7 linked regions of the Homo sapiens genome follow. The protein of the gene in region 1 purifies or fractionates together with the protein of each later gene. This does not show direct contact. Each region holds a gene or a part of one and is shown in the gene's direction. Other genes may lie near its edges. The genes, in order: CHSY3, RMND1, LRP5, FSD2, RCN2, GOLPH3 and CMTM6.

Evidence for each region.
Region 2: the proteins of CHSY3 (region 1) and RMND1 purify together in Homo sapiens (affinity purification with mass spectrometry; 2 studies listed by BioGRID and IntAct, with this or other methods). This does not show direct contact.
Region 3: the proteins of CHSY3 (region 1) and LRP5 purify together in Homo sapiens (affinity purification with mass spectrometry; one large-scale study listed by BioGRID and IntAct). This does not show direct contact.
Region 4: the proteins of CHSY3 (region 1) and FSD2 purify together in Homo sapiens (co-immunoprecipitation; one large-scale study listed by IntAct). This does not show direct contact.
Region 5: the proteins of CHSY3 (region 1) and RCN2 purify together in Homo sapiens (affinity purification with mass spectrometry; one large-scale study listed by BioGRID and IntAct). This does not show direct contact.
Region 6: the proteins of CHSY3 (region 1) and GOLPH3 purify together in Homo sapiens (affinity purification with mass spectrometry; 2 studies listed by BioGRID and IntAct, with this or other methods). This does not show direct contact.
Region 7: the proteins of CHSY3 (region 1) and CMTM6 purify together in Homo sapiens (affinity purification with mass spectrometry; one large-scale study listed by BioGRID and IntAct). This does not show direct contact.

The regions. Positions count from the first base shown.
Region 1 is NC_000005.10:129,903,150-129,907,572, forward strand, and holds the start of CHSY3 (chondroitin sulfate synthase 3), read left to right. Parts: upstream 1-1,315; 5' UTR 1,316-1,680; coding exon 1,681-2,482; intron 2,483-2,692; exon of another isoform or gene 2,693-2,778; intron 2,779-4,423. UniProt on the Homo sapiens protein: Has both beta-1,3-glucuronic acid and beta-1,4-N-acetylgalactosamine transferase activity. Transfers glucuronic acid (GlcUA) from UDP-GlcUA and N-acetylgalactosamine (GalNAc) from UDP-GalNAc to the non-reducing end of the elongating chondroitin polymer.
Region 2 is NC_000006.12:151,424,466-151,428,433, reverse strand, and holds part of RMND1 (required for meiotic nuclear division protein 1 homolog), read left to right. Parts: intron 1-851; coding exon 852-952; intron 953-3,968. UniProt on the Homo sapiens protein: Required for mitochondrial translation, possibly by coordinating the assembly or maintenance of the mitochondrial ribosome.
Region 3 is NC_000011.10:68,423,974-68,427,941, forward strand, and holds part of LRP5 (low-density lipoprotein receptor-related protein 5 isoform 1 precursor), read left to right. Parts: intron 1-1,128; coding exon 1,129-1,319; intron 1,320-2,004; coding exon 2,005-2,214; intron 2,215-3,968. UniProt on the Homo sapiens protein: Acts as a coreceptor with members of the frizzled family of seven-transmembrane spanning receptors to transduce signal by Wnt proteins.
Region 4 is NC_000015.10:82,764,285-82,768,252, reverse strand, and holds part of FSD2 (fibronectin type III and SPRY domain-containing protein 2), read left to right. Parts: intron 1-2,221; coding exon 2,222-2,355; intron 2,356-2,954; coding exon 2,955-3,087; intron 3,088-3,968.
Region 5 is NC_000015.10:76,944,856-76,948,823, forward strand, and holds part of RCN2 (reticulocalbin-2 isoform a precursor), read left to right. Parts: intron 1-2,565; coding exon 2,566-2,662; intron 2,663-3,554; coding exon 3,555-3,697; intron 3,698-3,968.
Region 6 is NC_000005.10:32,167,352-32,171,319, reverse strand, and holds part of GOLPH3 (Golgi phosphoprotein 3), read left to right. Parts: intron 1-3,968. UniProt on the Homo sapiens protein: Phosphatidylinositol-4-phosphate-binding protein that links Golgi membranes to the cytoskeleton and may participate in the tensile force required for vesicle budding from the Golgi.
Region 7 is NC_000003.12:32,496,308-32,500,275, reverse strand, and holds part of CMTM6 (CKLF-like MARVEL transmembrane domain-containing protein 6), read left to right. Parts: intron 1-3,968. UniProt on the Homo sapiens protein: Master regulator of recycling and plasma membrane expression of PD-L1/CD274, an immune inhibitory ligand critical for immune tolerance to self and antitumor immunity.

The DNA.
Region 1 (4,423 bases):
AGCTTTATGCACAACCTTTAGAGAGAAATTTGTTAATGCTCCCTTCTTCAAAAATCATATACCTTCAGGTAATTTCTTCCTAACGTAACTAAGGCACAATGATTTTGGCCAATACAGCTTAACTTTTTTTGAGATTCTGTTGCTGGACAATTTTCCTCCCTCATTGGAGAGGTAAAATTTTCCTGTCTTTGCCTTAGAAAATAAAACGGTTCATAGGCAAGAATAAAAATCATATCCTCCATTTTATTTTTTGATTAAGTTCACTTATTTTGTGGGGGTAAGAATTTCTTTCGTTTGGATCTTCAGGGTATTGGCCCTGTGAATGTGTGCCCATTTCTCCACTATTTGCCAGTCCCACTGAGCCAATCTTCTACCAAGACTGAAAATAGACCATAGTTCTCATTTCTTGAACAGATATCATCAGGAGAGCCGAGGGGGAGACCATTAGGCAGCCCCACATTTTCCAACTCAACAGGTGGAGGACATGGGATTTTTACGTTCTTTGGGGATTGAACCCCCACACACCACCAACTCCCTTAGCCTTTCAGGATAAGTATTTCCAATCCCTCAGAGATTTTCTTAGGAGAGACCCTAACGACAATGGTGCTTCTGTGAAGGACTGAGGAGAGCTGGTGGACGATGCAGGTAGGAGGGAAGTTAGGCTGGGAGGAGAGGTGCTGGGATGGGACGTTTGGTTTCCTGACAAGTGACCGACTAGAGAGAGAAGGCGCGGAGTGGCAGCGGTAAGAACAACGTGGAAAGGACGGAAAACGCGAAGAGTGGCGCCCTGGCGGACCTGGGGCGGGGCAGAGTGGTAAGGGTCACGCCAGGACGTACCCGGCTGTGGGCCGGGGGAGGAGAGCACGGTGGGACAGCAACGAACTTGCTGGGGGCTCCCGGACCCGAGCTCCGCCGATGAGGTCAGCGGAGCCTAGGCGCCGGGAGGAGGCCAGTAGAGCCCCCAGACACGAGTGTCGGGAGGCCAGCGGAGGGGCGGGACGGGACGGGAAATGGGACGAAGAGCAAGAGCTGGGGGAGGAGGGAAGAGGGGGCGTCGGCGCTGCAAGCCGGAGGCGGCCCGACAGGGATCGTTTCCTTCCGGAGAGGAGGCCGGCTCTGGACTGAGGCGCGGACGGGGGGCGTCCAAGGGCGGGTGACGGGGAAATACCGCGGCCCGCGCTTCTCTCCGGCTGGCAGCGGTGCCGCCTGCGGCTCCTCCTCCGGGCCAGCTCGGAGCCCGGCGGCGGGGGGAGCGGGAGGCGGGAGTGAGGGCGGGGGCTCGGGAAGGAGGGAGGAGGGAGGGCCCAGGCGCGCCACTGACAGGGTGGCAGCCTAGGAGCGGACGCGTTGCCGCCGCCGCTGCTCCTCCTCCTCCTCCTGCAGCTCCTCCAGCTGCCGCTGCTGCCGCCGCTGCCGCCACCGCCGCCGCCGGGAGAAGTTTCACTCCCGACCCTTGCTCGGAGCCCCGGCCCAGAGCTGAGCGGGAGCCCGGCAGGCAGCTGCAGCCCGCGGCAGTCGAGGCGTCCGCGGCGCTTCGACCTCCAGCCGGTGTCGGCGCCTAGGCGGCCGGCTGCGGCCGCGGCTGGGGGCGCAAAGGCGGAGGAGGGGCGGGTGTGAGCCGGGGAAACCGCGTGCCGCGCCGCGACAGCCCAGCGAGCGTCCGCGCCCGGGACAGCCGCGATGGCTGTGCGCTCTCGCCGCCCGTGGATGAGCGTGGCATTAGGGCTGGTGCTGGGCTTCACCGCCGCGTCCTGGCTCATCGCCCCCAGGGTGGCGGAGCTGAGCGAGAGGAAGAGACGTGGCTCCAGCCTCTGCTCCTACTACGGTCGCTCTGCTGCTGGCCCCCGCGCCGGCGCTCAGCAGCCGCTCCCCCAGCCCCAGTCCCGACCACGGCAGGAGCAGTCGCCGCCCCCCGCGCGCCAGGATCTCCAGGGGCCACCGCTGCCCGAGGCAGCACCCGGGATCACCAGTTTTCGAAGCAGCCCCTGGCAGCAGCCACCTCCGCTGCAGCAGCGGCGGCGAGGACGCGAGCCTGAGGGCGCGACGGGGCTTCCCGGTGCTCCAGCGGCCGAGGGGGAGCCCGAGGAGGAGGACGGGGGCGCGGCTGGGCAGCGGAGAGACGGCCGGCCGGGGAGTAGCCACAACGGCAGCGGGGACGGGGGCGCTGCCGCCCCGAGCGCCCGACCCCGGGACTTCCTGTACGTGGGGGTGATGACCGCGCAGAAGTACCTGGGCAGCCGCGCGCTGGCCGCGCAGCGGACCTGGGCGCGTTTCATCCCGGGCCGCGTGGAGTTCTTTTCCAGCCAGCAGCCCCCCAACGCCGGCCAGCCCCCGCCACCCCTGCCTGTCATCGCGCTACCGGGTGTGGACGACTCCTATCCTCCCCAGAAAAAGTCCTTCATGATGATCAAGTACATGCACGACCACTACCTGGACAAGTATGAGTGGTTCATGCGCGCCGACGACGATGTCTACATCAAAGGTGACCTCCCTGCGCCGGCTTTCCAGCCTGCCAGTCTCCCCGACTCCTTTCTCTGTAACCGGTCCTAGCCCCTGCCCAGCCCCTCCGCTGCTTCTCTGCCAGCACGTGCTTCGGGCTCCCACAGGCCCTGGCCCGCCCTCCCCACCCCTTGCATCCGCCCACAATTCGTAGCCCGTTCCTCGTCTTCTGCAATCTGGACCCTCCTCACACCTGCCTGGCTTTATTCGCCTTCCTCACTTGCTGTTTTCGGTGCCGCCTCGCGCTTGTCCCTTAGTCTTTACCTCGTCGGAGAGGTTAGAAAAGGAACCTTAGAGCTAAACCAAAGGCCATTCCCACTCTGCCCTCCTCTGAAAGCCCCTGCTGATGGTAGTTTCCCCAATCGGTCCAGAGGGGCGTGGTCTTCAGGAAGGGAAGACGGAGGATGCTAGCTACAACTAGTCTGGAGATCCAGTGTTCTGGCTTTGGATCTTGCTCTTTTGTTTAAACTGGATCTAGCGCACTTTTGGAACTGCTCAGATTGAGGAATCGTCTTCGCTGTCCCGGACCCTTTCCTATGTGTTCCCTTCCCTTTGGCTCAACTCTCCACATACTGGGAGTCCTTGGCCATCCCCACCGTGCCAGCGCGCTGCTCCTTCCAGCCGCTACAGTTCAGCACCAAGCCGTCCCCCATCCCCCCGCCACACCTCAATAAAACCCTGAGAGGATGGGCATGTTGTAAGGAATTGGTGGTGGGGGAAAAGAGGAAAGCACCCGCTAATAAGCCAGACCCCTGGGAACAGCAGACTGTACTAGCACACACTAGTATTGGTTCCTTTCCAGTGCATTTTGTTGGCCGCGGTGATAAGCAGAGGCTGGAAGTCCTTCCCAGAACCACAGGCAGCCACAGCAAGAAAAAACTTTTTTTGTCAGTTTAAAAGAGGCGCGGTCTTTTTCCCGGAATGTGGGCGGCTCTGGACAGAGAATTTCTAAACTCAGCGGATCAAAGTTCTTTAGGTCAGAGAAGTGAATCTTTCCAGTCCAGCCAGTTGCTGAGATGGGGAGCAACGCAAGGGAAGCAGCAGGGTTGTACCGAATGAGGTTTCTCTGTGTTTTCCACATTTCCTTGCTTCCCGGTCAAAGGGGGGCAGCCCTTCCTTATTTTATGCCTTTCTACTCGTAGCCTCATTGCTTCCTCCTGATTCGGATAGTACTTTTCACATAATGCAAGAAAAACGAACAAAAAGCCAAACAATAAACCCAAACTGTTGCATTTTGGCACAAGGAATTAGTGTAATCATAATAACTAGAGATTTCTTGGCTTTGGATTGGAAGGAGGGAAGTCACTCTAGAGCAGGTTGGAATAGAAAATACTGATAATTGGATATAAAAATAAAGAATGGTCTCATTACATTTTTAACAGTGGTATTTAGGATTGACTCAAAGAAGAAAGCTTCCTCTACTTTAAGTTCCTTGCCTTGGATATCTCAAAATTACAAAGGTTTCCTGGCAGAAGTTTGCCACATTTTGCAGGGAATTTATAAAATGCATTAACAGCACCTACTTCTTTCATTTGTTTTAATACTTTGAAAGATTGTCCTTCAGAACATTAAAATGACATATTATTTCAATTTCTATTAAGAATGAAATGTGTTTTGAATTAAGAATCCAATAATAGCTGAAACTCATTGAGATACACGGGGCAAGGCATGGGATCAAGATAATGACTGCAGATGCTGTGCTCATCAAAAATGGTAGTAAAGATGCTGACTGGGAATATGAAGAAGGTGACTCTCTACTTATTCCAATGTATCACTTGGAATACCAAGTGCTTCTCAACTGTTTTAGCTGCAAAATTTTATTTTTAAACGTTTTTTCTGAACTTAACAAACTGCAAGTGAAACCAATTACACTAATTTTTGACAAACTTTTTTCTAAAAAGGTGCCTTCCCAAATTAAATTTCA
Region 2 (3,968 bases), on another chromosome or scaffold:
ATGGAGAGTAGAAAAAATTCCCCATGGAGGACACACCTAGGTTGGTTAAATAAATTGCAGTTCGTCTGTAAAGGAAAATAGTGTTGAAAATGTCATGTGCATAATATGATCCTATTTTACATAAAAAGCAGCATAAATATGTACATATATACACATAAAAAGTCTGGAAGGATATGCACCAAGTTTAATCATGGTTGCCTCTGGGGATTAGGATTTCAGTACAGAAGAGAGAAAGAGATGATCACCTCCCACACCTGTGTGGCTTAATTTTTTATTAGTATGTTGGGCTTTACTTTTTATTTTTTATTTATTTATTTTTTTGAGATAGGGTCTTGCTCTGTCACACCGGCTGACATTGGCTCACTGCAACCGCCACCTCCCAGGCTCAAGCCAGCCTCTCAGGTAGCTGGGACTACAGGTGTACATCACCACACCCAGATAATTTTTGTATTTTTTTGTAGAGACAGGATTTTGCCACGTTGCCCAGGCTGGTCTTGAACTTTTGAGCTCAAGGATCCACCCGCCTCTGCCTCCCAAAATGCTGGGATTATTAAAGAGATTTAAAGAATACAAATTATAATATTACTAGTGATTTTCCTTGGGTTGTGGGATAATGATAACCTTGATTTTCTTCTCCATTCTCATCTGTGTTTTCCAAATGTAAAAACAAATGAACATGTCATCCTGATTACTTTAATATCACAATGGATTTGATTTGCCTTTTCCTTAAAAACATGCAACAGAAATAATGCCTGTAAGTGTAATGAAGACTGTTATAAGCATTAAAATCATAACATACTTGAACTGAGGGAGTCAGTTATGATTTCAGATTAATCTTCCTTTTCTTCTAGATGAAGCATGTGATGAAAGTTCTAGAAAAACATGAAATTCAGCCCTATGAAATCGCACTGGTACACTGGGAAAATGAAGAACTTAACTACATAAAAATAGAGTAAGCAACTTTTCATCAAATTTATGAAAGGGGCACTTGGAATAAATTAGGTAAAGCAATAGAGGAGACAAATTATTATGCATATGGAAACTTTTTTTTTTTTTTTGAGACGGAGTCTCACTCTGTCGCCCAGGATGGAGTGCAGTGGCACAATCTCGGCTCACTGCAACCTCTGCCTCCCGGGTTCAAGCAATTCTCCTGCCTCAGCCTCCTGAGTAAGTGGGACTACAGGTGTGCACCACCACGCCCAGCTAATTTTTTGTATTTTTAGTAGAGACAGGGTTTCACCATGTTGGCCAGGATGGTCTGGATCTCGACCTGGTGATCCGCCCACCTCAGCCTCTCAAAGTGCTGGGATTACAGGCGTGAGCCACTGGACCTGGCCTGGAAACTTACTTTTAAGAAAAAAGTGGCCAGGCGTGGTAGCTCACACCTGTAATCCCAGCACTTTGGGAGGCTGAGGCAGGTGGATTACCTGAGGTCAGGAGTTCAGGACCAGCCTGGCCAACATGGTGAAACCCCATCTCTACTAAAAAATACAAAAATTAGCTGGTTATGGTGGCGGGTGCTTGTAATCCCAGCTACTCGGGAGGCTGAGACAGGAGAATTGCTTGAACCTGGGAGGCGGAGGTTGCAGTGAGCCGAGATCACGCCATTGCACTCCAGCCAGGGTGACAAGAGTGAAACTCCGTCTCAAAAAAAAAGAGGAAAAAGATTACTGGTACAAATACAAAGTCTAAACCATATAATAAATATTAGAAGATAAACATAATTTTTTGAACTTCTCAGGCTATCCACAAGTTAAAACAAGTCAGTAGTATAGCCCCAAAATGGAAATGTTAAGTTTCTAATCAGCCTAATCCAATAAAATAGTATGCATTTATCAAATGAACCTATCAAATTATTCCAGTAAATTTTTCTCTTAATCCAGTTTTTTCCTATTGATTTTGGGGGGTGGGGGTATGAAAAGGAAGTATAGTGAGGGGTCAATCTAAGAGACCCACTTGTAGAAGTGTGGGTGCTGGAAGAAGTGGGACCTGGTGTACCAGTTTCACTAAGATAAATGGGTAGGCAACAGACTAGCTGATTTTCCTGACTCAGCCAGAGGGAAAAAATGAAGAGATGTTAGGGCCGAGACAGAGGCAGTATGAACAAGATGGTAGTGTCTTTTTCCTCATGGAGTTACCTGTCTAGTGAAATATGAGTCTTTGCAGGTTCTTAAGAAAGGTAGTGTTAGCCAGATTTGGTGGCTCACACCTGTAATCTCAGCACTTTGGGAGGCCAGGGTGGGAGGATCAACTGAGTCAGGAGTTCAAGACAGCTTGGCCAACATGGCGAAACCCCATCTCTACTAAAAATACAAAAATTACCCGGGCATAGTGGCGAGTGTCTGTGATCCCAGCTACTTGGGAGGCGGAGGCGGAGGCAGAGAATTGCTTGAACCTGGGAGGCAGAGGTTGCCATGACCTGAGATCGCACCACTGCACTCCAGCCTGTGCAACAGAGTGAGACTCTGTCTCAAAAAAAAAAAAAAAGCGTTAAAAGCAGAGCTTTGGGAAGACTTGGAAGAGAGACAGAGACTAGCTATAGAAAGACCAGATGGGGATAAGAGCTGAGTAATCAGCGCTCACCACCAATAGGGCCAGTCACGGTTTTCTAAGTAAGTGCCTTCCATGTATTATTTCATTTAATCCTGGGGAAAACCCTATAATTGCAGCTAACTGGCTTTCCGATGAGATTTATTGAATCCTGTCTTGCCAAAGGGCACCTGACTGTGAGTCAGCCTGAGCCCAGTGGTGGCTGCAGTCAGAGGTAAGGATATAAACCTGAGAGAGACAGCAAATGAGCAGCCTGTAGTTTTATTATCTTTAGTAGTTACTCAGCCCTTGGCCTGCAGATACAGCTCCTGTGAATCCCCTTTCTGTGTTCTATTAGGTTTACATTAAAATGGCAAAAACCGCGATTACTTTTGCACCAACCAAATACTTCCATATCCAACTACTGCTAGACCCTTGTGTGTGTGTGTGTGTACGCTTATCCACACACACACACACACGTTACTGTACAGTCTGTGAGGAGTAAAATCCTCAGTGCTTAGGATCCCAGAGTCAGTTATTTTGTTTCGTCAGAAAGACTGTCCTGGCTGCCACCTACATGGTTATTATGTGAGTTCTGCCATGATTCCAGGGATCTGCTCAGCTCTGTGGCATGGGCCCAGTTTACTCATAAAGCATCTTGTGACCAAGCACAGTGGCTCATGCCTGTAATCCCAACACTTTGAGAGGCCAAGGCGGGCAGATCACTTGAGGTCAGGAGTTCAAGACCAGCCTGGCCAACATGGTGAAGCCCTGTCTGTACTACAAATATAAAAATTAGCTGGATGTGGTGGTGCACTCCTGTAATCCCAGCTACTCAGGAGGCTGAGGCAGGAGAATCGCTGGAACCCAGGAGGCGGAGGTTGCAGTGAGCGAAGATCACGCCACTACACTCCAGTCTGGGTGACAGAGCAAGACTCCGTCTCAAAAAAAAAGACCTCTTGTGACTGCTGTCTTTGCTTTCCTTCCTCCATCTGAGGCTGTCATAGCAGATGCCGCCCTCCATCAGGCCCCTTGTCCCCCTCCCTTTGGCCGTCACTTCTTGTCTGACATCTTTTGTGAAGGTTTACCCTGTCTTTTTTCCATTTGCTTGTGATGTTTATATTCACACATTCCGCTCTTCCCCTGTCCCCTGTCTAGGATTCTCCACAGTCACATACTCATTTTTCACAACTTCCTTGCCTCCCTCCCCAACCCCATCATGTCAGTGTGATTTTAGATTACACTCCATATATAGTTTTATATGCAGCATTTTTTCACATAGAAATTTACTGTGAACGTTCTCCTTTTTATTAACTATCCTTCCAAAACACACTTTTAAGTTTTTCTTGTGTGGAGTGACTATTACTGAGCCAACCCCTACTGAACATTTGGTTTATTTCCTAATTTTTTACTCTTAAACACTGACCTTTTTTTTTTTT
Region 3 (3,968 bases), on another chromosome or scaffold:
TGTTAAACTTGAACCCTGTGCAGAAATCCCTTCCACGGCATGGGGGCTGCCTGTTGACTCGCTCCTGTTCCACCACAGGGAGCTCCTGGGCTTCTTCCTCCCAGAGGCCCCCGACGCTCCCACCTGTTGGTCGTCAGAGCTTCTGGTTGGTGGGAAGGCACCCAGGACCTTGAGGTCTCCAGAGAGAAAAGCCAGGGAAAGAGGGAGACCGAAACCCATGTGACATGAAACTCAGGCTCCAAACTGAGCACGGGAACGTTTGGGGACAGGAGCGCGATGGCCTTCCTCAGATAGCTGGGGGGCTGGCATGAAGACGGGAGCTACAGCCAGCACAGGTCCTGGGCCGGGAGCCCAGAGATTGAGCCCTGACTCTGTCACTTACTGGCCACGTGACCTTGGGCGGGTGGCATAGCCTCTTGGAGACTCAGTTTCCTCATTGGTAGGAGTGACGGCCACAGTGGTGCGGCCTCTGCAGCACACGGGGGGCTCGGTGGGCGGAAGCCCCGGGTCTATAAGGCGGCTGTGCAGGAGCCAGCCGAGCTGGTCTCCCAACAGCCAGGGCTCCGGGGTCCTTAGCAGCTGTGGGGGGCCTGCACCTGTTTCCCATGGCTGCTGTCAGAAATTACCAGAAGCCAGGTGGCTGAGAGTAATGGACACTTGTTCTCTCACAGTTCCTGAGGGCTGAAGCCCGAGATCGAGGTGTGGGCAGGGCCCTGCGCCCTCTGAAGGCTCTGAGGGAACCTTTGGGCTTCTGGTGGCTCCAGGCACCCCTTGACTTGTGGTCCTGTCACTCCAGTCTCTCTGTCTGGCTGCACATGGCGTGGCCTCTTCTGTACCATTGAAGGACACTTCAGTTGGATTTAGGGCCTACCCTCACCCATTGTGGTCGTATCTTGATCCTTCATGACATTTGTAAAGACCCTGCTTCCAAATAAGCTCACATTCTGAGGTTCTGGGGTGAGCGGGAATTTGGAGAGCATTGTTCAACTAGTATAGAATGTGACCTGTCAGCCTCGGGCAGCCCTGAGAGGCAGGGGCTTTCCACAGCCCAGCTGGGTGCCCTGGGCTCCGTGCTGTCCGAGGAGACGCCATCCCCACACCCGTCCTTCACCCGCCACCCTCCCGCAGGTACCTGTACTTCACCAACATGCAGGACCGGGCAGCCAAGATCGAACGCGCAGCCCTGGACGGCACCGAGCGCGAGGTCCTCTTCACCACCGGCCTCATCCGCCCTGTGGCCCTGGTGGTGGACAACACACTGGGCAAGCTGTTCTGGGTGGACGCGGACCTGAAGCGCATTGAGAGCTGTGACCTGTCAGGTACGCGCCCCGGGGCCTGCCCTAACCGCAGACACCCGGCCTTCATTGTCAGTAATGGCAGCAGCTGCCACATTGTCCGAGACCTGCCGTGAGCCCAGTGCCGCGCCAGGGGCTTTGTGTGTAGCGTGTTTTGTCCTCACACTGACAGCTGTAGGCTGGGGTTCTGAGTGAGCCCCACAGGGCAGAGGCAGAAAATGAGTCTCAGAGAGGGTGAGCGAGCTGCTTGGGGCCCCACAGCAGGAGATGGAGCAGGACTGCAGCCTAGCCTCTGCCCCCAGCACCTGCGCAAGAAGCTGCTCTGCTCTGGACTGTGTTAGGCTGCGAGGGCTGGAGAGAAATGAGAGTTGGTGCTTAGAGAGGGGGCGCAGGTCCCCATGGCTTTTCCTCTTATGATGAGGTAGATGGGTGAAGGGAGGGGCCATGCTTGCAGGGGCCAGTGACCGAGGCCCGCCGTTGGAACTGATGGCCTTCATCCCGAGCCCAGCCCAGGTGGGAGCAGGGCTTTCCGAGGGCTTGTCTTGGGTCGGCCTGCTTCCAGGGACTCTGCTGCAGCTCCCACCCCTGTCCAAAGCATGGAATCCCCCAGGCTCCCTGGCAGTCCTGTCAACCTCTGTCCTCCCAAGCTGAGTGTGGGGCAAGTTCTGGAGGTCAGCACTGCTCAGGGGGGCCCACGGGCTGCTTGCAGGGGCCAACCGCCTGACCCTGGAGGACGCCAACATCGTGCAGCCTCTGGGCCTGACCATCCTTGGCAAGCATCTCTACTGGATCGACCGCCAGCAGCAGATGATCGAGCGTGTGGAGAAGACCACCGGGGACAAGCGGACTCGCATCCAGGGCCGTGTCGCCCACCTCACTGGCATCCATGCAGTGGAGGAAGTCAGCCTGGAGGAGTTCTGTACGTGGGGGCTGGCAGTGGGGTGGGCAGGGTGGCCTCTAAACCCGACCCCTGGAGGAGGCTGGAGGCCAGTGCAAGATCCTGTGTGGCCTCAGCCAGGCGGTGGTCTCTGCCAGATGCCAACTGTTGCCCGCTGGGGTTCAGCGACATGTCCGAATGTCCCGAGGCCTCTGAGGTTGTTTTCTTTTGCCGCAGAACAAATCACCACGAACAGCGTTTTAAGACAACACCAACTCTTTTTTTTTTTTTTTTTTTGAGTCAGGATCTTGCTCTGTTGCCCAGGCTGGGGTGCCCTGGTGCAAACACAGTTCACTGCAGCCTCGACCTCTGGGCTTAATTAAGTGAACACCTTGCCTCAGCCTCCCAGGTAGCTGGGACTACAGGTGGGCACCACCACACCTGGCTAATTTTTTTTTGTAGAGACGGGGTTTCCCCATGTTGCCCAGGCTGGTCTGCAACTCCTGGGCACAAGCTATCTGCCTGCTGTGGCCTCCCAAAGTGCTAGGATTATAGGTGTGAGCCACTGGCCTGACAACACCCACGGATTGTCTCTCAGTTCTGTAAGGCAAAGTCCAGGCACAGCGTGGCTCACCTGGGTTCTCTGCTCAGGGTCTCACGGGGCCAGAATCAAGGTGTCAGGAACGCTGGGCCCTCAGCGGAGGCTCTGTGGAGAAATTAGCTTCCTTGCTCACTCAGCAGGTAGCAGTTGTGGGATCGAGGTTCTGTTTTCTCTCTGGTTATTGGTCGGGGACCACTCTCAGCTCCTAGAGGCCACCACAGGTCCTTGCCCCGTGGCCCTCTCTGCCTCAGCAGTGGGGGCTCCCTGCGTCAGTCCCTCCCACACCTTGAGTCTCTCTGATTTGCTTCTAAAGGGCCCTGTGATTCGGCTCAGCCACCTTTAGATTAGGTTAGCCTCCCCTTTGATAGACTCCAAGTCGGCTGATTAATAACCTTAATCACATCTGCAGAATCCCTTCTGCCACATAAGGTCATGACGCCGTGCTGGGGACTGGGGTGGGAAATTACGGGGTCATTTAGGATTCTGCCTGCCACTGCCTTGCTGTGTCCCAGGGCTTGGGGGAGGGGCCTCCACAGCTGGGACCACAGTCCTTCCTCCCCTCCATGGTAACCATCTGAGGATTACTTGAGACCAGCCTGGGCAACATGGTGAGAACCCATCCCTACAAAAAATACAAACAAAAAGGGACCAGGCTGGGCTTGGTGGCTCATGCCTATAATCCCAGCACTTTGGGAGACCAAGGTGGGCTGATCACTTGAGGTTGGGAGTTCGAGACCAGCCTGCCCAACATAGTGAAATCCCGTCTCTACTAAAAATACAAAAATTAGCTGGGTGTGGTGGCAGGCGCCTGTATTCCCAGCTACTGGGGAGGCTGAGGTGGGAGAATTACTTGAACCTGGGAGGCGGAAGTTGCAGTGAGCCAAAATTACGCCACTGCACTCCAGCCTAGGCAATAGAGTGAGACTCCGTCTCAAAAAAAAAAAAGGGCCAGGGGTGGTAGTGACAAAGAGACCCTATCCCAAAAAAACCGAACACTGAATCCTTGAGACTGAGTAAGGACACTGTGAAATTTTTCTGGGTGGGGCAGGGAACAGAGCGTCTTCTGTCATTTCTTCCACCTGGGTGTGGTCAGCTCTCCCTCCAAGCTGCCTCCTCTTCTTCTCATTGTCCGGGTGTTGGACACATTTGGTTAACTGGATAGAATAACGCGAGTTCCCAGGGACTTGGTCCATTT
Region 4 (3,968 bases), on another chromosome or scaffold:
GAACTAAAAGACCCACCTAGCTAGAATTCAGAGAGGTGAGGGTGAAAGCCATAGGCGAAAACAAAAGAGATTGCAGCTGAATGTACAAAGAATGTTTCATCTATCACAGAAGACTGTCTGGAAGCTCATGTTCACCCCTCATTCTCAGAGAGCTAGAGGGGTTCACAAATTGATAAGGGTTGGACTCAGTGACCACAAGGGCTCGCAGAACCTATGAGTTTACAGCAGCCTATGATGGAGGAAGCATAGGTTTACCTCTGGTTTACAGAAGTTTGTGAAAGGGGATGAACCACCCAGGCAGGCCAGCACCAGCCACCAGGACCAGGGGCTCCCCTGCTGTGGAACACAGGGGTGCACTGACCTGGAGCTGGAGAAATGAAGAGGTGTTGGTGTCAATTGTTAGGGAAGCAGATTCTTCTATGCTAAATGCCAGGCTTGAAACGTGGCCATATGCCACCCATCCATCTGTTCCAGGTGGAATCTGTGTGTCCATGGCCACACAGAGGCTGACTTTGGTAATCCACTCTGGAGATACTCAGGAGTGGGGCAGTGTGTCCAGTGGTTCTGGCCATCCTAATGGTTCAGGTTTCCTTTGCAATTTATGCTGATACTTTAGGAGCACTTGACACCTGGGACCAACTCACAATGATGAGGTCATCAGAGGGCTGGTCAGTAACCTGAGAGATGACCTGAGAGCTGGTGCATATTCTTCCAGTACAAATCCAATCATGGCGACCCATTGCTGAAGAAAAGGCAAAACTCCTTCACAGGCTCTGGCCCCTTCCTGCCTCTCCAGCTCCTCCCACACCAGCTCCCCTCCCTCTCAAGATCCCACCACATTGGTCATGTTTCAGTTCCTCCTACTTTTCATGCTCCTTCCTGCCACAGGGCCTTGGCACATGCTTCTCCTATGTAGGAGACTCCTCTGTCCCTTTTTCATCCAGTTACCTCCTCAGCATTCTTCAGAGCTCTGCTCAAAAGCCATCCTGCCCCCACCATTATACACTACAGCACACTATCAACTTGTCTTGGTTACCATCTTACATTCCTTCCAGTGATTGCCTGAAGAATGCTGCTCTTCCCATCTAGACTGTAAGCTCTATGAGGGCAGGAACTACATTTGTTTTTTCTGAGGGCCTCCCTATACAGTGCCTGGAACCTAAGGAGTTTAGTTAACATTTATTGAATGCATAAGTAAAAGTGCCCCTCTGGCCCAGAGCTGCAGCCTGAAGATAACCTGGACAACTTGGCCTCATCTGGGTGAGGGTGTTGTATTGGTAAATGGGCATCATCCTAAAGACTTCTCTTGCCCACTGGACTGACATGGGGTTGGCAACCGCAGCAATATAGACAGTGGCAATTATGAGCTTATATTTCTGTATAGTACAATTTAAATACATTGGATTATTTCCAATAGGCAGCTGTTAGGGGGTTAACAGCAGTTAACACTTTCAGCTCTAGTCAGAATTGTTTGCTCATAAACATAAATCAAGGACCTTTTTTTTTTTTTTTTTGAGACAGTCTCACTCTGTCGCCCAGGAGTGCAGTGGCGTGATGATCTCGGTTCACTGCAACCTCCAACTCCCAGGTTCAAGCAATTCTCCTGCCTCAGCCTCCTGAGTAGCTGGAATTACAGGCACCTGCCACCACACTCGGTTAATTTTTGCATTTTTAGTAGAGACGGGGTTTCACCATGTTGGCTAGGCTGATCTCGAACTCCTGACCTCAAGTGACCCACCCGCCTCAGCCTCCCAAAGTGCTGGAATTACAGGCATGAGCCATTGCACCTGGCTGAATTGACGGCCTTCTATGGGCCCAGTACTGTACTAAGAATAGCGGTACTCAGCCCCTGACCTCAGAGACATTATGATCCTAACAGACGGACAGAGACACACTGGATTCTACTGCATGCACACTCCATGATGCAGTGTTAACCATATGCCAAGCACAGTGCTGGGTGCCTGGGAAACCAGAATGAGGGACTTGGAGAGGAGACAGCCACAAACACAAGAAGTAGCAATGAAGTGAGAAAAGCAGACCAGAGACTGTGGGAGGGAATGCAGAGGGGGAGCCAGCACTCCTGGCTATGCTGCTGTTAAATGTGGGTCAGAGGACAGGAGCGCAAGAGTGAGTTAAACCTTCCAGCTTTGAAAGGGATGCCTGGTGCTTGGGCCTGGGTGTCCTAGCCCCATTCTGACTGCAGCTCTGCTTCCTTGTACAGGTCTGTTGTGGGCATCCCGACCTGCGAGTCCGTGGTGCAGCTGCAGCCGGGGCGGAGCTACATTATCTATGTGCGAGCCCTCAATATGGGGGGCCCCAGCGTGAGGAGCGAGCCAGCTACAGTCCACACCATAGGTCTGTGCCCCAGCCCACAAAGTCTCTGGGACCCAAAGTGGCCACTCTGTGGCAGACCCAGTGCTGCTATGACTTCACTGGGAAATTGATGAATATGCACAGATGTGGACACGTGGCAAGTCAGGCCAGAAGGAGTTCAGGGGTGTCCCATACTGCCCTAATTGCAAGTCAAATGGATCATTAAGAAGTCCTTCAATTCCTATTTCCCTTGGCAAATAGGTTAGAAATTCTTATCCATACACAGGCATTACAGCTAGAGGTAAAGAGCACAGCCTCTGGAATCAGAGGGGCTTGGGGTTCAAGTTTAAGTTCTATCATTTGCCAGCTGATTTCTTAACCACCTTGTGCCTCTGTTTCCTCATCTACAAAATGGAAATAGTGACACCTGTTTCTAAGGGTCGTCGTGAGGATTGAAGGGGATACTAGGCACACAAGACTGCCCGATGAGTGTCAATTGCCATCCTTGTTAACTGGACGCCTATTACTAGGCCAGGTCCAGGCTTAGGTGTATCCCACACGAAGCTAAACCGGTGACCACCGCCCACATGGAGAAAGCAAGTGATTGGCTGCGGGTCTTCTGTGTGTTCCTCCTCCCACAGGAAGCTACTTTCGCCTAAACAAGGACACTTGCCATCCCTGGCTGACCATTTCTGAAGACGGACTTACGGCTGTACGAAGTGAAAGGAGAACCCCCGCCAGGGAGCTGTCACCCAGCGACACTCACTTCACCAGGTACTTTGTCAACCGCTCACAAGGGCGTTCTGTGAACTTCCCGAAGGTGCACTGTTATTCAGGTCAAATCCGAATATGGCACGGAGGCAGCCTCGAGGGAAAAGGAATCCTACAAATGAGTGAGGAGGGAGGAGCCTAATGGGGAGGGGACCCAGAGGAGTGTGGGCAAGAGGGGTCAGGCAGGTGCAGGCAGAAGAGCCCCCTGGGACGGTGAGGTCAGGAGAGGGCGCGGTCCCCTGGGAGGGCATGGTCCCTGGGTCCTAGGCTGCCAGAGCTGGAGCAGCCAGAGGTCATGAGGGTGGGACAGGAATTACTAGTGGAGGGTGTCCAAGTTCTTGGCGTTCTGAACAAAGAATTGGACAAAATGCACAAACAAAGCAAGGAAAGAGGCCAGGCACGGTGGCTCATGCCTGTAATCACAGCACTTTGGGAAGCCGAGGCAGGCAGATCACCTGAGGTCAGGAGTTTGAGACCAGCTTGGTCAACATGCTGAAACCCCATCTCTACTAAAAATATAAAAATTAGCCGGGCCTGTTGCGGGTGCCTGTAATCCCAGCTACTCGGGAGGCTGAGGCAGAAGAATTGCTTGAACCCGCGGGGCGGAGATGGCGCCACTACACTCTAGCCTGGGCAACAGAGTGAGACTCCTTCTCAAAAAAAAAAAAAAAAAAAAGCAAGTAAAGAATGAAGCAACAAGAGCAGAGATTTATTGAAAACGAAAGCACACTCCACAGGGTGGGAGTGGGCCAAGCAAGCGGCTTAAGGGCCGGGTTACAGAATTTTCTGGGGTTTAAATATCCTCTAGAGGTTCCCACTGGTTACTTGGTGTACACCCTATGTATATGAAGTGGCTAAAGTGAAGTTACAAAGTCATTTACTGG
Region 5 (3,968 bases), on another chromosome or scaffold:
TTTGACATAGTGGTTTCCTTTCTTTTGGGTATATACCCAGCAGTGGGATTGCTGGATCATATGGTAGCTCTATTTTTAGTTTTTTGAGGAACCTCCAAACTGTTCTCCATAGTGGTTGTATGAATTTACATTTCCAAGTAACCAAAACTTTAAAACCTGTTCATTAAGTTGTTAAAATGAATTGTATAACCAGAATTTTAAGAGATACACAGATTTAAAATGATGCTCATTCTCCCCACTTAAAATTAGGCTTGGTAAGGAGGCTTTCTTGTGGTGACGAAGTTGCTTATTGGGAGGGAGAAGGTGAAAGACTGAATTTTTAAATCTCTGTACTATGTATGAACAGCAGGCTTCCTCAGGCTATTTTCTCTCATAACTGTGTTACCTTCAGTGCCTTCCTTATCCTTTTGTAGCTTTCAGATTTTTTTTGGTTTTTCAATGTTAGTAATATTAGGATTTCTGTTTAATTTACAACATCACTTATGAAAGCTTTTGGTCTGGAAAAACATCATGTTTGGATTCTTCATAGGGTTGGTAGGGGTGCAGCTGCTAGTTAACTAGTAATGTTTTTGCAATTTTAAGTATAATGAGTCCTCTCATCCCTTTAATATTTAAAATAAGTACCAGTTTTTCAAAACTTTTGTTGAATTGTAAGTTTAACTCAACAAACATAAATTGAGTCCCTATTATGACTTGGCCAAGCTTGAAAGCATAAACCATCACACTGGGAAATAAAGACTAATGTAACAAATAGCTTTTTAAAAAAGAGACTAAACATTTATATTGAAGTCTGTTGCATGACATCAGCCTCCAGCTACGTGGCTTGGTTCCCTGGATATTTCAAAGAAGGAAGATATATCTTTTTGTTTAATGTGTCATGGTAGACCCTGCTGCCTTGCATAACAAGGCTGCAGATACATTTTTCTCCATAGCTCAGTGGTAAGACACTGTCATTAATACCACTTCTCTTGCCATTGTGAAGCTTCTAATTTCTCATTGGCACAGAATACATGACCCAGTTTAAGAACAGTGCTGGGTGTAATTTAAGTACCAAAATTAAGTTGGGAAAAGCTAATTGAGCCCAAGAATGACAGGCAAAGGATGCTAGATCTTGATTCTCTGGAGAATAAGGAACAATTGAAGACTAAAGAGGGGAATTACCAGTAAAAGCAATGAAATAATTTAGGCATAATGTGATACGGCCCAGAGTTCTATCTGGCAATTGAATGAAATAGATTTGAGCAACATTTTGAAGAAAGCATATGCAGGAATGTTGACTTACTAAATAAGTGTTAAGGGAAGGCAAGAGTCAGAGATGGGCCAGGCATGGTGGCTCACACCTGTAATCCCAGCACTTTGGGAGGCCAAGGCAGGAGGACAGCTTGAGGCTAGGAGTTCAAGACCAGCCTGGACAACATAGCAGACCTTGTCTCTACAAAAAAGTTAGCCAGGTGTGGTGGCATGCACCTGTGGTCCTAGCTACTTGGGAGACTGAGGTGAGAGGATCACTTGAGTCCAGTAGTTGGAGCCTATGATGCCACTATTATTGTGCCACTGCTCTCTAGCCTGGGTGACAGAATGAGATCCTATGTTAAAAAAAAAAAGAAGGGGGAGGGCTAGGCGGAGTGGCTTACGCCTGTAATCCCAGCACTTTGGGAGGCTGAGGCTGGCAGATCATCCGAGGTTAGGAGTTTGAGATCAGCCTTGCCAACATGGCAAAACACTGTCTCTACTAAAAATATAAAAGTTAGCTGGGTGTGGTGGCATACGCCTGTAGTCCCAGCTGCTTTGGAGGCTGAGGCAGGAGATTTGCTTGAACCCGGGAAGCAGAGGTTGTAGTGTGCTGAGATCATACCATTGTACTCTAGCCTGGGCTACAGAGCAAGACCCCATCTGAAAAAAAAAAGGAGATAGGAAGATATTGAGGAAAGTACTGAAACAGCTGGCCATTGAACAGGTCATCTTTAGGGAAAAGGATTGGTTGTTTGATAAGAAGCTTTGATAAGAGGGAGGAACAGATTTGGGGGCAGTTTGGGATGGATAGGGCTAGGTTTGCTGAAGGGGAAGCAAGGAGATTGAGGTATAATGGCGGGCTGGTACATTTTAGATCTGGAGGCAGAACAGCAGTTCTAAGGTAAGGGCTCTTTTAGGGTTGTTCATGGATTGGAGGGCAAATGAAGTTAAAGACAAAGGTAGTATAAGATGCTTTTCTTGAGAGGGAGAGATGTGCGGAAAATAGCATGAGAGTAACGCTGAGGTTGTTTATGAGAGTGAAAGTGGAGTTCTTCACAATATCAGAAGCTTAAGGATGTTGAATTTAAAGCTACATAGTACTTCAGGTTTTATTCTTGCTTCTAAATTCCAGTGTTTAGAAGGATTGTCTTGAAGATATGGACAACCAAAGTGATTTTTCCTGTATAAGTACCTTACTAGCTGATTGCACCACTAGAGCTCCAAAAATTATCATTTATTTCTAAAGAAGTTCTGTAGTAGAATTGAATCGGATGGCAGTGGGACTGAACATTTTGTAACTTTTTTTTTTCTTTTTTAATGAACGTGGAATAGGAATTTGTCATTCAAGAAGCTTTAGAAGAACATGACAAAAATGGTGATGGATTTGTTAGTTTGGAAGAATTTCTTGGTGATTACAGGTGGGATCCAAGTAAGTCACCTGGGAGAATGTGAAAAGAGAAAAGGAATTGAAGAAAGACATTGAAAGACAGCCTTGCTCATTGAAAGCTCTCTTCAACAGGAAATGTAATGAGGATCTGTGTCTGATCCTACTTGTTTCGTTAACTGTAATACAAGTTCAACAAATGGATTTATAGCTTATCTGAGAACGCTGTCTTGCTTACTTTTACTTCCGTGTCTAGAGTCAAACATTTTTCTTTCTTTTCAAACAAATCTAATTTTATTATCAGTTTAAATGGGGAAGGAAGTAAGGTAGATATTTTTAAACAAAATCCTGTGCTGTTGCAGGTGGATCTTAAAAGAGATAGAAACATAAAACACTACAAATACTGGTGTAAACACAGTATCAGAAGCTTAGTAGAAGGTGAATAAGTGTTTGAAATTAAGAGTTTGCTTTTATATAAGCAGCTGTTTTTTCAGAATTGTTGCTTAAAGACACCAAACAATGCCATTTTTAAATTGGTCACCAGTTTTACTTATTCTGATTGTCACTTTAAAATTACACATGGCATTACTTTGTGAAAACATGTAAGAAACTTTGTATAGAAACATGATATACAGTAAAACATTACCCACCTCACATCTGGGAAAACTAGATATCGGAACAAATAGCAGTTAACAAAATTACTAGTTTGTGAAAACATCCAATGATTTTAAAACTGGGTTGTTTAGACTCGTGTCACTTTTGAAAATGACTATATATTTGTTCTTATGTCAGGACTTTTCAGTTAAGTAGTTCTGTTTTATTGGGCTTTCTTTAGTAAACTTTAAATTCACTTCCTTTATTCTAGGGATATACCAAACTTCTTATTGGATACATGTGATATTCTTGTGTATGTATATTTGTGTTTTTTTATATTAAGCTGCAAATGAAGATCCAGAATGGATACTTGTTGAGAAAGACAGATTCGTGAATGATTATGACAAAGATAACGATGGCAGGCTTGATCCCCAAGAGCTGTTACCTTGGGTAGTACCTAATAATCAGGGCATTGCACAAGAGGAGGTAAGTGTTACAGAACAACTGTTTCTCTCCACCCCCTCCCCCCGAATTTGGTGCTGTTGATAGGAAAAGAAGTTCAAAATCTTAAGCCAAAGAAAGAAGTAATGGAGTTATTTGGGATTGATGCATTACTATGTTTTGAATTTACGAACTGTTTAGATTGTCAGGGAGACGAGGAAGTTAAGATTGTGTCATGTATTAATTTGAGAGTACAGTGAATAGAATAATAGTTTGTATTTACCTACAGGGACTCAAAACAGGTTATAATAATTTT
Region 6 (3,968 bases), about 98 Mb from region 1:
TAAAACATTATGAAATTTTTTTTGCAATTTTTTTTTTTTAAAGCTCATCAGCTATTGCTAGTGTTAGTGTATTTTATATATGGCCCAAGACAGTTCTTCCAGTGTGGCCCAGGGAAGCCAAAAGGTTGGACACCCTTGCTCTAAATGTTTAAGGTGAAGCATATTAACATGCTGTTTTTCGGTGATTGGGTCTTAAGAAGATAATCTAAATAATTTGTTGAAGTTTAACCATACTCACATAATTTAAACAATTTAAAGTTATTTGGCGGGTAATTGAAACCATGTGTTCTGTTTATTTTGCATCAAGAGTCACTCATTATACTTTGCTAGTCATGGCTAAGGTCCAGATGCTTGCTAGCTTATTGTGAGCATTTCTTCCTGATTTCAGCAACCACATGGGGAAATTTTTTCTCTTTTTTTTTAGGCAAGTCCAGAGAGTTGAGGGGTGGGGTTGAGACTACTGGGATTTTGTATTGCTTTAGGTTTTGGTTTTAGGGATTAGCCTATATATTTTTTCCTTTCATCACATCTTTAAAATTTTTTTTTTTAAGAGATGGAGGTCTCAAGATGTTGCCCAGGCTGCACTCAAACTCCTGGGCTCAAGTGATCCGCCCTGAGTAGCTGGGAATACAAGGTGCATGCCATCAAGCCAACTCATCATGTCTTTACACTCTAATAACCAGCCCTGTCAACTTATCTGTTGGTATGTTTTTCCCTTGGGAGGCTCGCCACCATGTTTTTAACCTATAGTACTCTTTTTAGGAGGCAGGAATTGCTGTCTTACCCTGAGCCCAGGCGTTTATGCTAACTCATTGCTTTAACTGATTTTTACTTCAGCATTTATCTTTTTAATGTCTGGATTCTCCTAAGAACTTTAAAAGCTAAACTTTACATTTAAGCAAATCATTAATGTTGGAAATATTTTATATATGTGAGCTAATAACCTTATGTGAATATACTTGTTAAACCAGTACCTAGAGCAAGAAACAGAAGCCCTAGCCCTCCACTTGAGTATCTTTCCAGTCACTACCCATTCCTCAGGGGTAACCACTGGCTTAATATTAGAATTCAGCATAGATTAATTTTGCCTAGTTTTTTGTACTTTGTGTCTGCTTTTTGTTCAATGTGAGATTCATCCATATCGTGTGAGATTGTCCTTTGTTCTTATTGTCTTACCAATTTATTTTTAACATGTTTATAATCTATAATATTTAAAAAATTACTTTGACATATTCTGAGTCAAGTCTCCCTCTCTTTTTTGCTGAACAGAAGGTTCAGTTTTTGAATAAGCAGATGGTCTGGCTTCAGATTACCTGTTAGGAGTGAGTCTAAAGTCATTGTGATTGATTTTTTTTTTTTTCTTTACACATTTCAGATTTTTTTTTTTTAACCAATGATATTTGTTTTTTGCTTTTATAAAACAGGGATGGCTAGTCCCCTCAGAAGATTTTCATGCTCACTTGGGCAGAGAATCAGTGCATAAGTATTTAAGTAACTCTTTAAAGACCACAGTAAGGATGGCAGATAGTTTACACCTAAATTCAACTGCCAAGTAATTAGCAGTATTTCTTTAATTGACCCAGTGTTTGAGGGGGAGGGACAGCAAAAGTGCCAGGTATTTTCCTTTCCCTGTGTGTGTTTATTCTATAGATGCTTTCCATAGAATATTTTCAGGATGCTTTATTGAGAATTACCACAAATAACTGGTGTCATATATGTTTGAATGTCTTCATTGGTGGCAAATCTTAGTCTTTTAAGGTTAGATTTAATTATTTTCAGTGGCCAAGTATAATTTGGAGTATGCCTATGGAACAGCAGAAGCAGAGAGAGGCTCTATAGTCCTGTCCAAAGTGTATTCTTTGGCTTTTACATATAATTTAAGCCTTCTGAGCTTCAGTGTTTTCATGTATAATGGAAAAGTAGTCATTCCATATGATGGTTCTGATTGTACTGCTGTGGATGTTTATTAACTCCTCCCCAGGTCTTCGCTTTATTTTGTATTACTTTAGGGTTTCCCCATAGTGTGTTGCCTGTTTTTGAGACAGGGTCTTTCTTTGTCACCCAGGCTGGAGTGCAGTGGTGCGATCTTGGCTCACTGCAGCCTCAACCTCTTGGGCTAAAGTGATCCTCCTGCCTCAGCTTCCCGAGGAGCTAGGACCACAGGCACACACCACCATGCCCAGCTAATTAAAAAAAAATTTTTTTTTTATAAAGACAGGGATTTCACCACATGGCTCAGGCTGGTCTTGAACTCCTGGGATCAAGTGATCCTCCCGCTTCAGTCTCCCAAAGTGCAGGTATTAGAGGCATGAGCCACCGCACCTGTTTTTTTTTTTGTTGTTGTGTTTTTTGGTTTTTGTTTTAAGACAGATTGTGCTGTGTCGCCAGGCTAGAGTACAGTGGCGAGATCATAGCTCACTGCAGCCTCGAACTCCTGGCCTCAAGTGATCCTCCCGCCTCAGCCTCCCAAAGTGTTGGGATTACTGCGACCGGCTCTAGGATGCACTCTTGAAGCATATTATTCCCCTGCTGTTTTGTCATGCAGCCAGACTTGTCCAATCATATGTTTTCTTTCAGGGCTTTGGATCTTGAGAGAATAACGAGCTGTAGGGTTTTTTGGAGACCTTTCCAGAGTCATGTCAGCGTGTGGATCAGACTGTTCTTTGGCATGGTTCTTTGAGCTGCTTTCTCTGGTCTGTTGGCACTGTTTTTTTCCAGTCTGATTTTCCAGTCATCTTTCAGTGTTGTGAGTTTCAACAGCCTTCCAGTAAAGTTGCTTTTTAAAGATAGCCAGAGTCAGTTACTAATGTTTCTAATGCTTGTAGACAAGAACTGTAATACAGTAACTTAACTCTATGTCTTGAAAAATAAGTAGGTACTTGAGGTAAATAATATGTAATGGGGTAAAATACTTAAGATTAACCAAAATGATAGAACTGACTTTTGTGTGGCTTTTACACAGGCTCCAAAGATGTTTTCCATTTTTGGAATAAGGTTCCCAAGGTCACTACTTTGAAGTATAATAGTGATGAAGATGTATAACTTAACAAAAATTGTTTTCCTTTCTATACGTGTGGTGATGTCCACCATCTCTACATATCAAATCTGTAAATCAGAAATTCAGTCAACAAGTATTCAGAATTTCCAGATGTGCTGAGTTTTAGTAATTTAAAATATAATAAAGGCTTCTGAGTTTTTAATGAATTTTCGTTGTTTCTAAGACAAATGATATTTCCTTCATATTTTTTGAAGTTTTGAATTTTTATCTATTTTTTTCAGGTGTTTAAACACAGGTATGAGATATACAGGATCTCAGAAATTACTTTTGAAGTTCATTAAACTATTTGATTGTACTTTTTTTCTTTTGAGACAGGGCCTAGCTTTGTCTTCCAGACTGGAGTGTGGTGGTGTGATCATGGCTCATTGCAACCTCGACCTCCTGAACTCAAGCAATCCTCCCTCCTCAGTCTCCTGAATAGCTGGGACTATAGGCGCACCCTATCATGCCCAGCTAATTAAAAAAAAAAATTTTTTTTTGTAGAGACGTGGTCTCACTATGTTGCCTAGTCTCGAACTCCTGGCCTCAAGCAATCTTCCCGCCTTGGCCTCCCAAAGTTCTGGGATTACAGGTGTGAGCCACCACGCCTGGTCTGCTTATTATACCTTTTCAACAAGATTTTATACTGTTGAAATTACTTTTTAGTGCTTTGGGATTCTTTTACAATATGGTCAAAATATTCACTAACTCATCTCATAAGTTATACTAATATTTGATATTTGTTAATTTTGGACTACCTGAGAGTTCTTGTATGGAGCATTTGAATTACGTTTTAGAATTGTATTTTGAAGGCTGGGTGCGGTGGCTCACACCTGTAATCCCAGTACTTTGGGAAGCCGAGGTGGATGGATCACCTGAGGTCAGGAGTTCAAGACAAGCCTGGCCAACATGGTGAACCCCTGTCTCTATT
Region 7 (3,968 bases), on another chromosome or scaffold:
TCTTCCTTTAGATAGATTGGTTGTTTTACTTTAAATGTTTAATTTTTTTAAAAAACTAAACAGAATTGCGAGCTCCAGTAAGGAAACAACTGTAATGGAGAAACCCGTAATCAGAAGAGGAGGTGTTTTAACAAGGGACCTGCAAACCCTGTGAAATTTTATTCAAAATATTGTACACTTATATGTTTGAGTATATTATTCTGGACCCATAAATCTTAACAGAATCTCAAAGATCCTACAAGAGAAAAGCCTGCTCTAAAACTTAAAAACCAGACATTGTGTATATACTTAGGAAATTCTTACATTAGAGTCTTCGGAGGTTGAATTGAATTACCTCTGAGGTTCTTTGCACTCTTAAGGTTTTTTTTTTTTTTTCAAACCTCTGAGGCTCCATGGGGTTTGCTATTACAGAACTGAATTGAATATTGAAGGGATAGAGAGTGGAGCCTGTACACAGAGGAGATTAGAGATAAAAGAACGTAACTTCTCTATCTCTTGAAGTTAACATAGCTGTGTCTGCCATTTAGATATGACCTAAGTTTTGTTAAAACCCTAAGCATCCCCCAACTACCATCCACCCTTCCAGAGCTTAAGAAGAAATACTCAGTTGAGAATTTAGTGTAAGGAGTTACTGGAGTCCTAACTTTATGCAGTTTTTCAGTTTATACTATCCTTAGATTTGTCCACATGTTCATGTTTTATTTTGTGAATGTTTTTGAGGGAGTTTTTGTTTTAAGGGGAGAATTGACGTTTGGTAACCTAATTGCTTGCTGATACGCTGGTGCAGTGACCTAAATATGTGGAATTTTCTGTGCAACAAGCTCCACATTGTATCCATGCTGTCAGTTGACTATCCTGATAGCTGCACAGTACTGGAATTCTAGTCGCTCATCTGGCAAGCAGTTTTAGAAATCGCCAGTGATTTTTCAATATATTACATTATAAATAATGTTACCCTATAAGTACCAAGAAACAGATTACTTGGAAGCATTTCTTATATTGATGCTCTTTTCATTATTTAAATATGAAAACTGATGTATAGTAAATTGAAATGTTCTATTTTTACCTTGAGGAAGATCCCGTAATGTCAGCAAATTATATCTGAACCTTTGTAAGAGTAAATATTTGCCTAAGGCAAGGGAGGCCTGGCCTGTTTCTTCAGACCAATGGATTTTTAAATTTGAACTTTACTTATAACTACAAAGTTTTTAATAGTAAAGTTCATTAATTTATAATTCATATCATTTTGTAGATGGAGCTTTATAATTAATGGCAAACATTTAAAAGTTCTTTTTATAAAATATAAGTAGTAGACTGTTAAATTAATGGAGAATTCGTATTTAATATAGTGACCGTTTTAAGGAACACTTGAAATTTCAGAAAAGGTAGTGAAACTGAGGCCGGGTGCGGTGGCTCATGCCTGTAATCCCAGCACTTTGGGAGGCCGAGGTGAGCGGATCACAAGGTCAGGAGATAGAGACCATCCTGGCCAACATGGTGAAACCCCGTCTCTACTAAAAATACAAAAATTAGCTGGGTATTGTGGCGTGCACCTGTAATCCCAGCTACTCAGGAGGCTGAGGCAGGAGGTGGAGATTGCAGTGAGCCAAGATCGTGCCACTGCACTCCAGCCTGGCAACAGAGCGAGACTCCATCTCAGAAAAAAAAAAAAAAAAAAGAAGGGGTAGTGAAACTGAAATGGAGAGATAGAGGCAGGATAGTAATTATCCAGTGTTTAAATCACCAGAACTGTAAGATCATGTTTTAGTCACTGAGACTTCCCAAATCTGTTGATGTTAGCAAATTGTTTTTAATGTATGATTTAATACATTAAAGGAAATATACAGAACTGTGGGTTTAACTTCAAAAAGCCAGTCTTACAGGGAAGACCTACACAAACATACATACTCGTAAAAGGAATTTAACAAACAGTATTTCATGGGGAGAGAGGAAGTACAGAGTGGGAGTCAGAGACTTGGGTTCTTGTCTGTGCCGAGCTAACTTGGGGCTTAACCTGTCAGTAGCTTAATTCCATCTTTGTAAACGTGGGAGTGGGAGACTATATCCGCTAAGGGCCCTCCTGACATTAAAAGCTTGATAATTCTCTTAATTATATTTGGGTAAAATTTTATGTCATTAGAAGGAGTTACATTGGGTATACAGTTGTTAAGTACTTAGCTTAATATTCAGTAAGCAATATTTAGTATGATGACTTCATGCTATTAAGAACAAAACTGTTTACCAAAAAATAATAATTGAGCCTTTTTACTTATGGGTTATGTTTACCATGAATTTCTTAGCTAATTCAGTGACATTTTTTCTCTCTTCCTATTTTTGACCACTTTGGCATTTAATGCTGGTGACCACTCATTTCTCGAAATTGTTCCTTCAGCTTTTACACTTTTTTTTTTTTTTTTTGAGACGAAGCCTCGCTCTGTCACCCAAGCTGGAGTGCAGTGGTGCAGTCTCGGCTCATTGCAACCTCTGCCTCCCAGGTTCAAGCAATTCTCCTGCCTCAGCCTCCTGAGTAGCTGGGACTACAGGCGTGCACCACCATGCCCGGCTAATTTTTGTATTTTTGATAGAGACGGGGTTTCATTATGTTGGCCAGGCTGGTCTCAAATTCCTGACCTCGTGATCCACCCGCCTTGGCCTCCCAAAGTGCTGGGATTACAGGCGTGAGCCACCGCGCCCGGCCAACTTTTACACTTTTTTCTTTTTAATACAAGAAAGTGTCTGCTTACCAAAAAAAAAAAAATCAACTAAAAATATTAAAATAAAACCACTTTCCCACCCCTCACACTACCAGGTGTCACGGTATGAGTAACAGTTTGGAGTATGTTTACTTGCTGCTTTTTAAGGAGTTTTTTCTTTCTTTTTTTTTTTTTTTTTTGAGACAGAGTCTCGCTGTTGCCCAGGCTGGAGTGCAGTGGTGCGATCTCGGCTCACTGAAAGCTCTGCCTCCTGGGTTTACGCCATTCTCCTGCCTCAGCCTCCCGAGTAGCTGGGACTACAGGCGCCCGCCACCACGCCCGGCTAATTTTTTTTGTATTTTTAGTAGAGACGGGGTTTCACCATGTTAGCCAGGATGGTCTTGATCTCCTGACCTCGTGATCCGCCCACCTCGGCCTCCCAGAGTGCTGGGATTACAGGCGTGAGCCACCGCGCCCGGTGTAGGAGTTTTCTTTTTTTAAAAACACTTCCTGTGGCTTGCTGATAAGAAGTTAGTTGCTCTTTTCCCTCCTACACTCGGAACTGTAGAATTCCTTTAGGCCCCACCCAATCCTCTGTTCCTCCTGTTTTCTAACCTACTAAACCAGACAGGTGTTCCCTCCTGCCTTCATCTAAACATCCATATTCCCTTGCATGATCATCACACAACCACACCCAACTCCTAAACCATTTTTTTCTTCATCCCCATCCAGTTAGGTCAGTTGCCTTATTATCATTTTTGGATTTACTATGCAAATTCTTGCCCTTATGAATATGTTCTTTTTCATCCTCCACCTAGAATTAGAATGTCCTCTGTCTATCCAGGTTCTGTTTGTGTCTCTGCCTGGTTTGAGTCCTGCTTTTCCACTCATCCTTCTCCGGCTCCTTCGAACATTTTCTTGAGATTTTCTAACCTACATATAATGAATGCTCAGTTAATGTGGTATAAAATATATTGTTATTATTGTTTCTTGTACATTGAGCTTATTACTCCATCATTTGTATCTTCCTATACGTAGAACAGTGTTGGAGTGTTGCTAGTTCAAGTACACTTTGAGCTAGCAATTGCATAATGCTGTGGGAGCTTACAAAGGTTAGTAGCCTCAGAGATGGGTAGGCAGAGAATTTTTTTTCTTTTTTTTTTGGTAGAGATGGGGTTTCACCATGTTGCCCAGGCTGGTCTCAAACTCCTGAGTCCAAGCAATCCTCCCGCCTTGGCTTCCTAAAGTGCTGGGATTACAGATGTGAGCCATCGC